Linked DNA regions of Homo sapiens. The protein of the gene in region 3 purifies or fractionates together with the protein of the main gene of each other region. This does not show direct contact. Each region holds a gene or a part of one and is shown on either strand. Other genes may lie near its edges.

Region 1 (3,500 bases), on a different chromosome or scaffold from region 3:
AGTCCTACAGGCTTGACACAGGAGGTGCTCAATGGCTGTTGAATAAATAAATGAGAGGAGGAAAGAAGGAAACAAGGAAGGAAGGAAGGAAGGAAGGAAGGGAGGGAGAGAGGGAGGGAAGGAGGGAGGGGAAAAAAAAGAAAAGAAAGAAGGAGGGAAGAAAGGGAAAAAAGAAGGAAAGAAAGAAGGAAGGAAGAGAGACAGAATATGGGCCAACTGATCGCTTTAGGAAAGGATATGGTGGTGAGTTTTGTGTTTTGGAGGGGGAGGGTGGGATGTTGGGATGCAAGGATGGAAAAACCATCTAAATGTTTGTTTATGGAGGTTACTCCAGCCCTGAGTCCCTGGTTTCCTGGGGAGTCACCGGGATTCCACTTTGAGGATCTGGCCCTGGGCCTGGTCCCTCATTTGACTGAGGTTGTAGAATGAAAGTACTAACACTAATCACTGCTTTTGTTTGAGTGCCCACTATCCACTCAGCATCAAGCGTGGCACTTTATATACAGCGTCTCTGACTTGATAACAGCTCTTCAAGGTGCAGCATTAGCATTCCACTTTACAAGGGTGGAAACTGAGGAGGTGAGAGGCTAAGTGGCCTGCCTATGTTTACACAGCCAGTTAGCGGCAGATTCAAACCCAGGTCTGTGTGACTCCAACACAGAAGAGCTAGGGCTGGCTCAGTCTCATTCCAGCTGTGAGACCTGGTCAAGTGGGTTGATCTTTCTCAGCCTCGGGGACAGGGACAGTTAGGAACAGGCTCACACACCTGACAGGGATAAAGGGATGTGTCCCCATCCCTCCAGTTCAGTACCTGCTGGTTCTGGTCCCGAGTGTCCTCCGTGTGGTACAGCACAGCCCACCTGCCGGCAGCTGACACGTTGACCCACAGGCATGGGTACTGGGGCACCTTCTTGCCCTTCAGCTCCTCCTGGTCCCTGATGTTGGTCTCAATCAGGTGGCACTTGGATTCCTGGGTCCACACGCTGAGGAGACCACACACATGCACACATACACATCTCAGAACTGGGTGACACACAGAACACCCATTTGAACCCATTATCCCCTGGGAGCCTCTAGAGGGATCCAGGACTGGGATCCTCATCTTGTCTTCAGCATCCAGCAATAAAGGCACATGACCCCACAGTCCCCGGACACAGGGAGGAATTGTAGAAGCTGGATGGGGTCTTAGACATTATCTATATGACTGGTTCTCAACCTTGGCTACTCTTGCAACAACCTGGGGAGCTTCTAAAAAGATTCCCGTGTCCAAGCTACACCCCAGAGCAAGTGAATCAGAACTTCTTGGGTGGTTTGGCCCAGGCCCTGGGTGTTTTTTCAAAGCTCCCTGATGTGATTCTGACGAGCAGCCAAACCTGAGACTTTCTTATCCATATCGTCTTCATTTTGCAGAGGCAGAAGAGAAACTCAGAAAGGTCAAGTGACTTTGCTGAGACCTTGCAGGACCTGAAGCTAGGTCTGAGTGGGTTGGAGAGCTGTGTTCTTTCCCCTAAAAGGAGCAGATGTAGAAGGGGTTTGAGTTGAGCCAGGATGGGAAAGATGGTGGGGACAGTCTCTAGATGGTGCTTCACCAGATTAAGAGTCCAGCCTGGAATCGCTTCAGCGTTGTGAAGAGTGAGGCTGCAGCAGGCCCGGGAGAGGCTAACAGGTTCATCAACATATTAGTAAATCAGTTGTGCTTCAACTCCCAAGTATCCTGTGGGAGACCCATTGCCAGTCAGAAGGGGGCTGTCAGCTGCTGGAACGTGCCCAGAGCACAGGTCTGAGACTTATCCTAAGGACAGGCTGGGGGAACTGAGTGTCTTTGTTCCAAATAGAACACGAATTAGGAATTCACAGCTTTTCCTTAAAATCTCAAGTGGTTGATATGTCATGGAGCAAGGGCATGGACCATTCTCTGAGATTCCTGAGCAGAACTTCAGGGAAGCAGATGCTGGCTCAATGCAGACACATCAGAAAACCTCAAACATGAAATGTATGTTCAGTGAGGCAAGGAGCTCCCCGTCTCTTGAGGTATTCATCAGGAGGCTGGATGCCCACCTGACAGGGAGGCTTCAGAGGGGAGAGAATTATGCAGCTGAGCTGTAAACATCTGCAATTCTCTGATTCCTCCTGGGATCAAACTTGCACTGGAACCTTTGCTCTGATTCTTTGCTATTTCTTCTGAGAAGGGCATCATGTGTCTGTTACCACCACGTCCTAGATCATGTGTCTGTTACCACCAGGTCCTAGAATCTCAGACCAGTGGGGCTCAGTTCATCCTACCTTCCCTGCACTTGAACCCTAGAACCTAAGAATGAGCATCGTCTTGACCCTGCTGCCTTGAATGAGGGTCAAGGAGAGGGGTGAGTAGAAGGCCAGGGTTCCTTACAGATGCCAGACCCTTAGGAGAGGGTTGGGGGGTGGGCAGGCCGGGAGAGCTCAGTACCTTTTCTGGTAGAGGGGCAGCACAGTCGTGACCAGGATGTAGTAGGTGATGACGGCACACACCACCATGGTTACACCCAGGCAAAGGGCTCGTGTCTCTCCCCGCTTCTGGGCCATCACCAGCTTCTTCACCATATTCACTGGGGGCAGTGATCATTTCTAGGTCCACAGAAGCAAACAGAAGTGAGATCAGCCCAGTTCACAGGTGATCCACAGAAAGAGAGGACAGGTGAGAGGGGAAGGTACTCAACTATTAATATCACTCTTGTTTATATTTGGAGCTTTGCAACTTCCAGAAGTCTTGCTTTTTGGACCCCATGTAAGCCTTCCCTGTGCAATTGAGAGGCAATTGCAGATAAAAGACCTACGGCTCAGAGAGGTAAAGTGACTTGCCCTAGGTCACACAGTATGTAATAGGCTCAGTAATGGCCCCCCAAGATGTCTATGTTCTAGTCTCTGGAAGCTATCAATGTTACTTTATGTGGCAATGACTTTGCAGAAATGATTAAGATAAAGGCTCTTGAAGGCCAGGTGCGGTGGCTCATGCCTGAAATCCCAGCACTTTCGGAGACCGAGGTGGGCGGATCATGAGGTCAGGAGATCAAGACCATCCTGGCTAACATGGTGAAACCCCATCTCTACTAAAAAAAAAAAATACAAAAAATTAGCCGGGTGTGGTCGTGGGAGCCAGTAGTCCCAGCTACAGGGGAGGCTGAGGCAGGAGAATGGCATGAACCCAGGAGGCGGAGCTTGCAGTGAGCAGAGATGCGCCACTGCACTCCAGCCTGGGCAACAAAGCAAGACTCCGTCAAAAAAAAAAACAAAAAACAAAAAAAGATAAAGGCTCTTGAAATGGGGAGACAATATTGGATTATCCATGTAGCTCCTAAATGTAATCCCAAGGGTCCTAATAAGAGGGAAGTGAAGGGAGATTAAACAGATGAGAAAGCTAAGGTGATATGACCAGGGAGACAGCAATTAGAGTGATGTGACCACAGGCCAAGGAGTGCGTCAGAAGCTGGCGGGGGCAAGGAACAATGGCTCATCCCCCACGG
Region 2 (3,500 bases), on a different chromosome or scaffold from region 3:
TGCCCTCCTGGCCACCTTCAGCAGAGCGTCTTCCCAGATGCCTTCTGTAGCCGTGGGGCAGCCCCCTCCTCTATTTCTGTGCCCGGGCTCCCCATTCCTTCCCTCAGGCCCTCAGCAGCCCCGAGGCCTAGCGTGGTTTCCCCACCCATCCCAGGCCCCACGGGCAACCACTTTGTCAAATTCTCTCTTCTGGTGCTCTTTAAAGGAGTGATGGGCCATGGTGAGGCATGCATCGTTTTAGAGTCAGGCCAACTCCAGGTCTGAATCCTAGCTCTGCTGCTCATGACCTGAGTGACCTTGGGAAGCCTATTTCACCTCTCTGTGCCTCAGTTTCCTCATCTGTAAAATAGGAAGGTGTTTCACCTGCTGCATATGATTGATGATTTTGTGAGAAACAGCCTGTGGTAAAAGAGACTGGCACATAGGAGATGCTTCACCACTGTCACCCACCCCCCACCTTCATCTCTCTCAGCAAAATTCACAAACTGGTACTTCCAATTTTCAAAGTTTATTCCCAAAATGCTTCATATCCAATGTCGTTCTATAACCCGCATTAAAGCACAGTTCTATCTCCTGGCTGATTTTCACATTCTTCAAGTTTTTAATGTCTTCTCTAATATCTCCTTTAGGTCAATTTCCTACACAAATTAAATGCCTAAAGGAGCCAGGCAGGTGATGTGTATGGGTGAGATGGCCAGGTGGGGGAGTGGTGGGGACTGTGGCAAAGTAGATGTCACACCCCTCATCTGAAAAGTCAACATCTACTCCGTGCTAAGCAGTGATTGCCATCTGGGCCCAGTATTGGCAGAGCTTCCAAATTTTTAAGAGAAGACAGAAGTCCGGATTTTTTTTTTCTATAAAACTTTCTAATTTCTTGGGGGAAAATTTGTCAAAAAGGATTATGTAAAAGCTCCTGGCTGGGCACAGTGGCTCACATCTATAATCCCAGCACTTTGGGAGGCTGAGGCAGAAGGATCACTTGAGCCCAGGAGTTTGAGGCCAGCCTGAACAACGTAATGGGACCCCCATCTCTACAAAAAATAAAAAAAAAATAGCTAGGTGTGGTGGTGCACACCTTTAACTCTAGTTACTTGGGAGGCTGAGGTGGGAGGATCCCTTGAGCCTGGGAGGTGGAGGCTGCAGTGAGCCATGATCACACCACTGTACTCCAGCCTGGGCAACAAAGTGAAATCCTGTCTTGAAACCCCCCAAATTCCCATATTATAGAGATACAAAATGAAATATTTGAAATGGAATGGTATCTTTGGATTTGCTTCCACATATCTGAGGGTGGGAAGGAAGCAAGCGAGGGAGGGTATAGGATGAAGCAAGATAGGCCTGAGTTGATCATTGTTGGAGCAGAGTGATGGGTGTGTGTTGTTGATGGTACAATTCCTTCTGCATGTTTGAATTTCCTATAATAAAACGTTAAAAGAAACACTGTGCAGGCCAAACAGAAAACACCCACCAGCCAAATTCAGCCTACTTGCCACTGCTTTCTGGTCTGTATTGTTGAGTTGTGTGACCACACAGAACCCTGGGAAACCCATCCTAGCTCAGTGTACACACCTGGCACCGTGAGAGCCCCAGGAAATCTGGGATCTGATTCAGTTAGACTCTGCTCCCCATGGATTTGAGGGGGGTGTCTTTTGTTGCCCCTCAGGTCAGGTCTGAACTCTGCCATTAAGTACTTTAGTGACCTCAAGCAAATCACAGCTTCTCTGTGTCTCTGACTTCTCATTCTTGTCCCTGTCTACACCAGCAGTGTAGGGGAAGGAGAGTCAGCCTGATCCAATTATGGACCAGCACGGCCTAGGATTGGGAAGCCTGTTTTCCCTGAAACATGTCTGTGGAACATTTTTCTCCTTGCCTGTTTGTGGAAGCCTGTGATTCTCTCCAGAGCCTTTCATACTATCATGAGACACAACACTGAAAATACACACCCTCCTGGGAAGCATGCGGCCTCCACTTAAGTGTATTCACAGCACAGCATCTAGAATTGAAGGCAGAGCGTGATGGACATGGGCTGGCAAGTACACACAAGGCTTAATTAAGGAAGCCAGGAGGGAGAAAGAGGAAGTACAGATCATGGGGGCGGGACAGGACAGGCTAATCTCCAAGGCAACAAGTTCCCCAAAAAAGCTCTGTGAGGTTTCAAAATATCTTAAATAGTGCCCCCAAAATTCGGAAAAACAAGATTATTTATTTATTTATTTATTTATTTATTTATTTATTTATTTATTTAGAGATGGGTTCTCACTCTGTTGCCCAGGCTGGAGTTCAGTGAGGGCTGTGATCATGGTTCACTGCAGCCTCCACCCCCTGGCTCAAGTAATCCTCCCGCCTCAACCTCCCGAATAGCTGGGACAAAATAGGTGCAGGCCACCATGTCCCACTAATCTTACAATATTTTTTGTAAAGATGGGGTCTCTATGTGTTGCCTGGGCTAGCTCAAGTGATCCTTCCGGCTCGGCCTCCCAAAGGGCCAAGATTTCAGGCATGAACCATCATGCCTGGCCTGAAAAATGAGTTTTTAAATTGAATATCATCCTACAAACAAGGTTATTCATTGCAGCATTATAACACAAAGGATTATAAAGCAAAGCATTGGAAAGAGCTTAAAAGTCCTCTGACAGGAAAAAGGTGAAATAAATTAGGGTATTTCCATTTAATAGGTTCTGTGTAGCCTTAAAAAGAAAAGAAAAAGAGGAAGACAGAACTCTGAGCACTGATATGGAATGATGCCATTTGTATAAAAAGTGGGTGGGGGAAGTCTATGGACTTGCATTTATTTATTTATAGATAAAATATATCTGGAAGGATTTATAAGAAACTTATAACACTGGTTACCAGTGGGCCACCCCCCAGAAACATCCACATTCGAATCCCCGGAAACTGTGAATATGTTGTAGAAGGGACTTTGTAGATGTGATTAAATTAGTAATTTTGGCATGGGGAGATTGTCCTGATTTTAAAGGTGGTCCCAATGTGATCACAAGGATCCTATAAAAGGAAGGCAGGAGGATCAGTGTCAGAGGTAGGAGATGTGACAACAGAAGCACAGAAGCAAGAAGAAGCTGGTTTGCGTTTTTGGGGGGTTTTTGTTTGTTTTCGTTTTTTGTTTTTTGTTTTTTTTGAGACAGGATCTCATTCTGTCAGCCAGGCTGGAGTGTGTTGACGCGATCTCAGCTCACTGTAGCCTCCACTTCCTCAGGCTCACGTGACCCTCCCACCTCCGCCTCCCAGGTAGCTAGGACTACAGGCATGCACCACCACACCTGGCTAATGTTTGTCTATTTTTTGTAGAGACGTGGTCTCACTTTGTGGCCCAGGCTGGTCTCAAACTCCTGGATTAAGGAGATCCTCCTGCCTCGGCTTCTCAAAGTGCTGGGATTATAGGCATGAGCCACTGGGCCCAGCCAAAGCTGCTGGTTTTAAAGATGGCAGGAGGGGTCATAAGCCAAGGCCTGCAGGCAGCCTCTAGAAGATGGAAAAGGAAA
Region 3 (3,932 bases):
TCTCCACAAAAACTTTGAGTAAGAAAAAATAAAGAAATTTGTTTTCAGCTAATTTACCCACTCAAGAGCTTGCTCTCATCTCTCAGTTTTTCTCGGAAAATTTTTTGCACAATCCCTCCTTTCCTGACTCACAGGAATGAAATGTGAAAGTAAATAGTTTTGAGTACATTTTAACAATAATCTTCACTTCCCTATTATCGTCTCTGAAAATCTACCCCTAAAGTCATGCACAGTAACCTTAGTAATTCTCAAGTTGGAGAGATTATGTGCCCTAGGGGACCTCTGGCAATATCTGGAGACATTTTGGGTTGCTATAAATAGGGGAGGTAGGGCTGGGAGCAGTGGCTCACGCCTGTAATCCCAGCACTTTGGGAGGCTAAGGTGGGTGGATCACCTGAGATCAGCAGTTCGAGACCAACTTGGCCAACATGTTGAAACCCTGTCTCTATTAAAAATACAAAAATTAGCTGGGCGTGATGGTGTGCGCCTGTAATCCCAGCTACTTGGGAGGCTGAGGCAGGAGAATTGGTTGAACCCAGGAGGCAGAGGTTGCAGTGAGTCGAGATCACACCATTGCACTCCAGCCTGGGCCACAAGAGCAAAACTCTGTCTCAAAAAAAAAAAAAAAAAAAAATAGGGGAGGTGGTGGTACCGGTCATCTAGTGGGTAGAACTCAGGGAGGTGGCTCAATATCCTACAATGCCCAGGACAGACGCCACAACAAAGATCGGCTGGCCCAAAATGTCAACAGTGCCAGGGTTGAAAAAACTCGCTTTAGGAGAAGACAAGAAAAGAAGAAAATGCTTCATAATATAAAATATCCTAATATTCTCTTATGCTACTTCTTCTATAAGCACAAATAGACAAAGCACACACTGTATCTTAAAATTCCACATTTAGAGTTAATGAGAATTGATGTTATATGACAAGATCTGCAGCCGGGCAGGAGGGAGAGGACAGGTCAGCTCTGATTTCCCAACATAAACCCCTCCTTACTAAATGGTAACATGACTTTATCTTCGGGCACTGCTCCAGAGTGAAATACCTTACCAATAAACATCAACTCCAGCCTTATTATTTAATTTTATTTATTTATTTAGAGACAGAGTCTCACTCTGTCCCCCAGGCTGGAGCAAAGTGGTGCGATTTCGGCTCACTGCAACCTCTGCCTCCCAGGTTTAAGGGATTCTCCTGTCTCAGCCTCCCGAGTAGCTGGGACTACAGGCGTGCCCCGCCAGGCCTGGCTAATTTTGGTATTTTGGTTAGAGATGGGGTTTCGCCATGTTGGTCAAGCTGGTCTCGAACTCCTAGACTCAAGTGATCCACCCGCCTCAGCCTCCCAAAGTGCTGGGATTACATGTGTGAGCCACCGTGCTTGGCCCAGCCTCATTTTTTAAAACAGGCCTTTTGATTTTAACATTTTCTGCAAAAACAAAGTCCTCTGATATAAACTGTGATCCAGCTCAGACCAGGCATCTATTTTTGTCCCCTGCTCCCCGACTATGTAAAAAATTCCCATCACTAAACCTTCTCATTATTGGGAGGGGGCGTGAGCATGCGTTAAGATTTATGATTGAGACTCCCCCAAAAGTAGTAAAACACTTCCAGAGGATCTAAGACAATCACCAAAAGCGCCCCTTAGCGTGTGCGGCAAAAATTATAACCGAATGCAAAGAATCTTATCAAAGGAATGTCTTCAAGTTAACCAACGTTTCCTATTACACCTTCCAAAGCTGTTAGGGGCGAGTCCCACGCAGAACGTCCGCTGCTCTGCCTGGCCTCTGTGTTCTTGCTCCAGCCACACACCGCGGTCTCAGGAGTCAAGCACGGCACCTGGCTGCCAAGGCGTGACTGGAAAAGGTTAATTAACACCGAGCCTCTTCCAGGTGAACGCGAACGCGAGTGGGTGTGGACCGCAAGGTCGGCCAGTGGCTGCCGCGGGAAGCGCAGGCCCGGACCACACCCGACCTCCGCACTTGGGGTCCCCTCCGGCGGGATCCGCAGCTCTCGGGGTGGGTGGTCTCCAGCCGGCCACTGCGGGAATGCCGCCGGTCCTGGAAGGACACCCTTCTATTCAAACTCAAGGGAGAAAGGGATCATTTAAATCCCCCGCATGGCTGCGCGCTATCCCCGGAAGGCTGCTCCAGCACCACCTAGCGAGGATGCCGCCGCGCAGGGCGCTCCCAGGTGTGCACGCGCAGGTGTACGGATTCGGGGAGCGCTCCCAGGTGTACACGCGCAGGTGTGCGGACTCAGGGAGCGCTCCCCAGGTGTGCACGCGCAGGTGTGCGGACTCGAGGAGAGCGCCCAGGTGTACACTAGCAGGTGTGCGGACTCGGGGAGCGCTCCCAGGTGTGAGCGCGCAGGTGTGCGGACTTGGGGCGGTGGGGGGCGCCCAGGCTTGCACGCGCAGGTGTGCGGACTCGGAAGCGCGCCCAGGCGTACACGCGCAGGTGAGCGAACTCGGGGGGCGCGCCTAGGCGTAGGTATGCGGACTCCGGGCCGCGAAAGACAGGTCATGCCAGTGAACCCCCAAACCCGGCCCACGCTCCCTGCGCCCCAAGCCGCTCATCCCCAACTCACCTCTTCCAGAAATTTGGTCAAATCGTACACCTTGTGGTGCAGGATCAGCCAGGTGCTCTTGCTGTGGTTGTGCTTCTGAATCTCCTCTAGGGTGTAGTACTTCACGGCCTCGTCCGACTGCTCTGCCATCTCGGTTCGCCGCGAGCCAGGCCCAGCACACACAGCCCCGTCGGGTGGAGCAGAGCGCGCGACTCAGCCAGCTCCACCCGGGACATTCCCCGCGCCGGGAACCCCACTGGGGGCTGGGCGGCCGGCTCAGGGGCGGGGCGCAGTAGAAGGGCCTCCGACGGTTGGCCATCATCCTTGTCACTCAAAAGTCCCCGCCTTCGGTCGACCCCCTCCGCCTGCCCAAGCGTGGTCCCGCCCAGTATGCGGGTGTTAATTGGCTGCCGGAGGTGCCCTTCACAATCTCCCGGCTGCCGCAGCGCGCGGAGAGCGTGACAGGACTCCACGGAGTCTGCGCGGAAGGGCGGGACTAACTGTGGCGAGGGCTGAGGTGGGAGGTCGGGGGCGTCCCCGCGGGTTAAGCGTGCGAGAGAGCGAGGTGCACCAGCGGGCATGGATGGCCTGTGCAGAGTCCAGTCTTGTGAGGGCGGCGAACTAGGCAGCGAATCGCGGGAGTTTCCTATTGGCAGCAGTCCGAGTCCCAGACGTTAATTTGTAACAAAAGTAGCGATGGCCAAGCCCATAAAGGGGGCATCTCGGAAAGCCGTTCGCATGCACGGAAGAGATGAAAGCCCCGTGCGCGCTAGAAAACGGTTTCGCAACTCACTTCGGGAAGCAAATGCGCTGCCCCCCAAAACATAAAGTTGGCGAACTGTGCCTGACCCCGCTGGGGTTTTGGAATGCCTCGTCCTCACAGGAAAAAAATCCAGGGAAATCATCTTTTCCTTAAAAAGCAAAAGTGTCCAAATTATTTCTGTGACTGAAGTAGTTTGTCTGCGGTTGGCCAGTGACATGGCAAGGCCTTGTTTGTGCATTTAAGGTAAATCAGATTCTCTTCTAGGAGTCTGGAAGAGAACTTCCCCAAAGGGCACCCTCTTTCCCTTCTGACACAGAGGAAATACCACATATAAAGAGCTACAAATGTTTGAAGGAGAAAAAAAATAAAGAAAAATTCCAGCATGTTAAAATTTGATATTTTATGTAGGCCCTTTTCAGCAATGGTAGTTAATTCCAAAAAGAACCACACGAGAGGTTTCACATGTGGGGTCATCCATCCTTCCAGGGATGCAGAAGGTTCCTACACATACTAGGTGTCTGATGAATGTGAGCTCCCTTCCCCCTGCTTACCTCCTCCATAGGAATGCATGCCTATCCAGAAAAACACAAAACACACGCATGTCAGG
Region 4 (3,500 bases), on a different chromosome or scaffold from region 3:
TCAACTCTGGCCTCGGGGCTGGCCCGGCCGCTAAGAGGCGTGCGCTGGGGCAGGCTAGCCCTTCAGGGAAGCGAAGGCTCTTCCGTGCAGAGCAGAGTGGCCCAGCTGTGTGAACCAGAACGTGTCATGAGGTGGGACCAGGGTTCACGGAGACAGGGTGCTGTCCCTGGCTAACTGGGGAGGCTGCACCGCATGCCTGTAGTGACGCCAGCGCATTAAAGCCTCTGTGGAGTCCTGCAGCAAAGGAAGTGCTCGGCACTGTGCAGTGCAGATCCCCAAATCTCTCGGCTCTCAGGAGGGTCCCCTTCCCTGAGCACCTGCATTCTCACATTCCCCCGGGGCTGGTCCTCATGAGCTGCCCGTGGCTCTAGGAGGGAACCCCAGCTCCTGCCTCTGAGCTCCAGGTGCCCATCACCTAACGCCTGTCTCTGATCATGTGTGTTTAAATATGGAGTCTGTTTTCCCTTAGACGTTTGAAATATTAATCTTTTATCTATATTTCATTAGCTATTTTCTAACATAAATACAACACAAGCTAGTATCCAAAGTATGTGTGTTATATTTCAATAAAGTTTACGTAAAACAGTGAACATCCCCACGAAGCGTCAAGAGCCGGCTGCCTTCCCAGTGTCCCGCAGCCCGCGCCGCCTTGTGGCCCACACTGCCTTGCAGCCCGAGACCTCAGGAGGCCCAGCCCTCAGGTCCGCGCCGCGCAGGGGCACACGTTTCTTTCAAGACTCGCACGAAGCCAATTCTGTGTGTTTGGCACACCCCACACTCCGGAACCTCCTCGCCTCACTCTGCCTGTATCTAGACTGAGCCCATCCTGCTCCCTGCAGCTCAGTCTGTGTTGGGCCTGGGAGGAAGGAGACCCCTGACCACAGGCCCTGTCTCCAGCTGGGTGCTGGGGCTGTCAGCTCCGCCCTCTCTTCTCTCAGAAGCCCAGCCTGACTCTGTGGCTGCCCTAGCCACACAGGCCCCACCCTCCAGGAGTTTAAAATTTAGTTAGGGATGAATTCAGATTACTGAGCCAAGATCCCCAATGGTAAAAAGATAGCAAACGGTAGGCACAAAATGAATGGCAGGGCCTAGGGCAGAGGAAAGCTTCTAATTCTCTAGAAGGTTCTCTAACCCTTAGTGGGTGGTCCCAGGACAGTCTTTTGTCTGGGCCCTCCTGGTAGATGCTCTGCGCCCCCATCTCTGCAGGGGCTGCTTTCCAGGATTGTCCCAACCTGAAAACCCTTTCCCTGGCAGCCTTCGACACACCCCTACCTGTGTGCCTCTTCCCCAGCCAGCCCCATCCACCCAGCCAGCCCCATCCACCCAGCCCCTTCTCCCCAGAGCTCCACCCCGTGCCCCTCTGTGCCCTGGACACTTGCCTGCGGCGTCCACTGGAAGGCCCTAGGAGACCTGAGGTCTGATCTGAGCATTCCCAGCAGGAGGACCCAGGACAATGAGGCACCTGAGTGACGCTGAACTCTCAGGAGGGGCAGTCGGTGCCTCAGGAGGAGGGGGAGCCCACACCTGCCTATCTTGTTTGTGACCCAAACTCCTGGAGGAACAGGTCTGCTTCCATCTCTACTTCCCCGTGGCTGCTGCTACCCTGTAGGCGCCTTACTTACCGTGCTGCACTGCCCGGGAGGGTCTGAGATGCGAGGCCCACAGTGATGGTCTGAGCCAGAAGCAGCACCCTGGGGCAGGCAATTCAGGCCCATGCTCTCAAGTGTGTGCTGGCCTTGAGGGGCCCCGGGTCTGCCCTCTTTGGCTGCAGGGGAGAGGATGCAGGTGTCCCATGACTGCCCATGGGCTGCCTGCTGGAAAGCGGAGCTGAAGACCCAGGGCTGCTGAAGTCCTGGGCCCATCCTGGCAGGCTCACAGCCAGGCACCAACCCCTGTAACTTGCAGTCCTCACTGGCTTCCTGTCTGCCTCCCTAGGGTGCTGGGAGAATCAAGGGCAGGTGCTCTGTGGGCTGTAAAATCTGCAACCCACAGGGGAAAGTCATTTTCTCCCTCTGATTCCCCAACTCTCAGGCAACAGGGGGTCTAAATTTCACACCGCATGTCTCACAAAAGCCAGCTCCCTTTCCCCTGATGTGTGGCTGCCAGTGCTCAGCGCAGAAGGGGCCAGCCTGGCAGCACCACCACAAAAAGCAGCCCCAGCTCTGTGCAGAGGAAGACCAGCAGGTCACGTGCAGACCCCAGACCCCACGTCTGGATTCTTTCACCTCTCTCAAGTTAAATGTTAACGCATCAAGTTAGAAGTACCCTGTGGAAACCAACTGCAGAAAAGAACCTGTCAAACATGAAGCAGCGAGGCAAATCATCAACAACCAGGGTATACATGCAGGCAAGAAAGCCGGCTCAGCTGATCAAACGACGCCGGTCCTGTGTCCCCAGACACAAGCAGAGCCGACCGTGTCCTCCTGACCAGACCCAAGGGCCCAGCACTGCTTGGGACCTCAGCAGTGGCCCTTCCCCACACAGCACCACCCGCGTGCCAGCAGAGCTTTCTGGAACTTTCCAATAACCTGCTGCTGCTTCTCAACGCCCCAGGAAACCCAGGCCAGGGTCCACAGCTACACCACTGGTGTCAACCTGCACACACCGCACAGTTCAGGCTGGGCAGGTTCCAATGCCACCAGGACCGCCAATGGACCACCTCTTCAGAGGGCATGTGCCATCCTCCCAGCGCTCACCTGAGTGCCCGCGCCAGACTGCAAGGCACCCACCATGAGGAGCAGGCTGTGGCGGTGACCAAGGCTTCCTGGCACGCTGTACCTGTCTCACCACGGCAGGTGGCATGCACTGTCCCAGCCCAGCCACTGTGCCCCAGCTCCTTCCACCTGAGCTCCGTGGACAAGGGCACAGCCGTACCCGCCTTGAGCTGCTGTGAGGTCATGCATTGGCCTGGCGAGTCCTAGGTGCCCATGGAGGCCACTGGCTGGCCCATCCTCAGAGGCCCTTCTCAAGCCAGGGGGGACGCTTGAGAGCTGGGGTGGGGCTCTGAGGGCTCCTCTCTGCAGACCTCAGTTTCCACTCGTCAGACCTCTGAGAACAAGATGCTTCACACACTCTCATTGCAGTCACCATTCACGTCAGAACTAAGGACTGTCTGCGTGCGGTGCCTCCTGGGACTACACCTGTAATCCCAACACTTTAGGAGGCAGAGGCGGGAGGATCACTTGAGCCCAGGAGTTCGAGACCAGCCTGGCCAACATGGTGAAACCCCGTCTCTACTAAAAATATAAAAATTAGCCAGGCATGGTGGTGCATGCCTGTAATCCCAGCTACTCAGGAGGCTGAGGCACGAGAATCGCTTGAACCTGGGAGGCGGAGGTTGCAGTGAGCCGAGATCACGCCACTGCACCCCAGCCTCGGCGACAGAGTGAGACTCTGTCTCAAAAAAAACAAAAAAACAAAAAACCAAAAAAACTAAGGACCTATGGCCAAGGACTCCGAGCTCATGGCACCGTGCAGCCCAGGCCAAGAGGTACACGAGT

What was found.
Region 1: the proteins of CYB5A (region 3) and KCNMB1 fractionate together in Homo sapiens (co-fractionation; one large-scale study listed by BioGRID). This does not show direct contact.
Region 2: the proteins of CYB5A (region 3) and LGALS9 purify together in Homo sapiens (co-immunoprecipitation; one large-scale study listed by IntAct). This does not show direct contact.
Region 4: the proteins of CYB5A (region 3) and LRPAP1 fractionate together in Homo sapiens (co-fractionation; one large-scale study listed by BioGRID). This does not show direct contact.

Annotation. Positions count from the first base shown.
Region 1 is NC_000005.10:170,382,868-170,386,367, forward strand, and holds part of KCNMB1 (calcium-activated potassium channel subunit beta-1), read right to left. Parts: intron 2,605-3,500; 5' UTR 2,581-2,604; coding exon 2,447-2,580; intron 984-2,446; coding exon 812-983; intron 1-811. UniProt on the Homo sapiens protein: Regulatory subunit of the calcium activated potassium KCNMA1 (maxiK) channel. Modulates the calcium sensitivity and gating kinetics of KCNMA1, thereby contributing to KCNMA1 channel diversity.
Region 2 is NC_000017.11:27,634,188-27,637,687, reverse strand, and holds part of LGALS9 (galectin-9), read right to left. Parts: intron 1-3,500. UniProt on the Homo sapiens protein: Binds galactosides. Has high affinity for the Forssman pentasaccharide. Ligand for HAVCR2/TIM3. Binding to HAVCR2 induces T-helper type 1 lymphocyte (Th1) death.
Region 3 is NC_000018.10:74,289,164-74,293,095, forward strand, and holds the start of CYB5A (cytochrome b5), read right to left. Parts: upstream 2,801-3,932; 5' UTR 2,713-2,800; coding exon 2,584-2,712; intron 1-2,583.
Region 4 is NC_000004.12:3,525,923-3,529,422, forward strand, and holds part of LRPAP1 (alpha-2-macroglobulin receptor-associated protein precursor), read right to left. Parts: intron 1-3,500. UniProt on the Homo sapiens protein: Molecular chaperone for LDL receptor-related proteins that may regulate their ligand binding activity along the secretory pathway.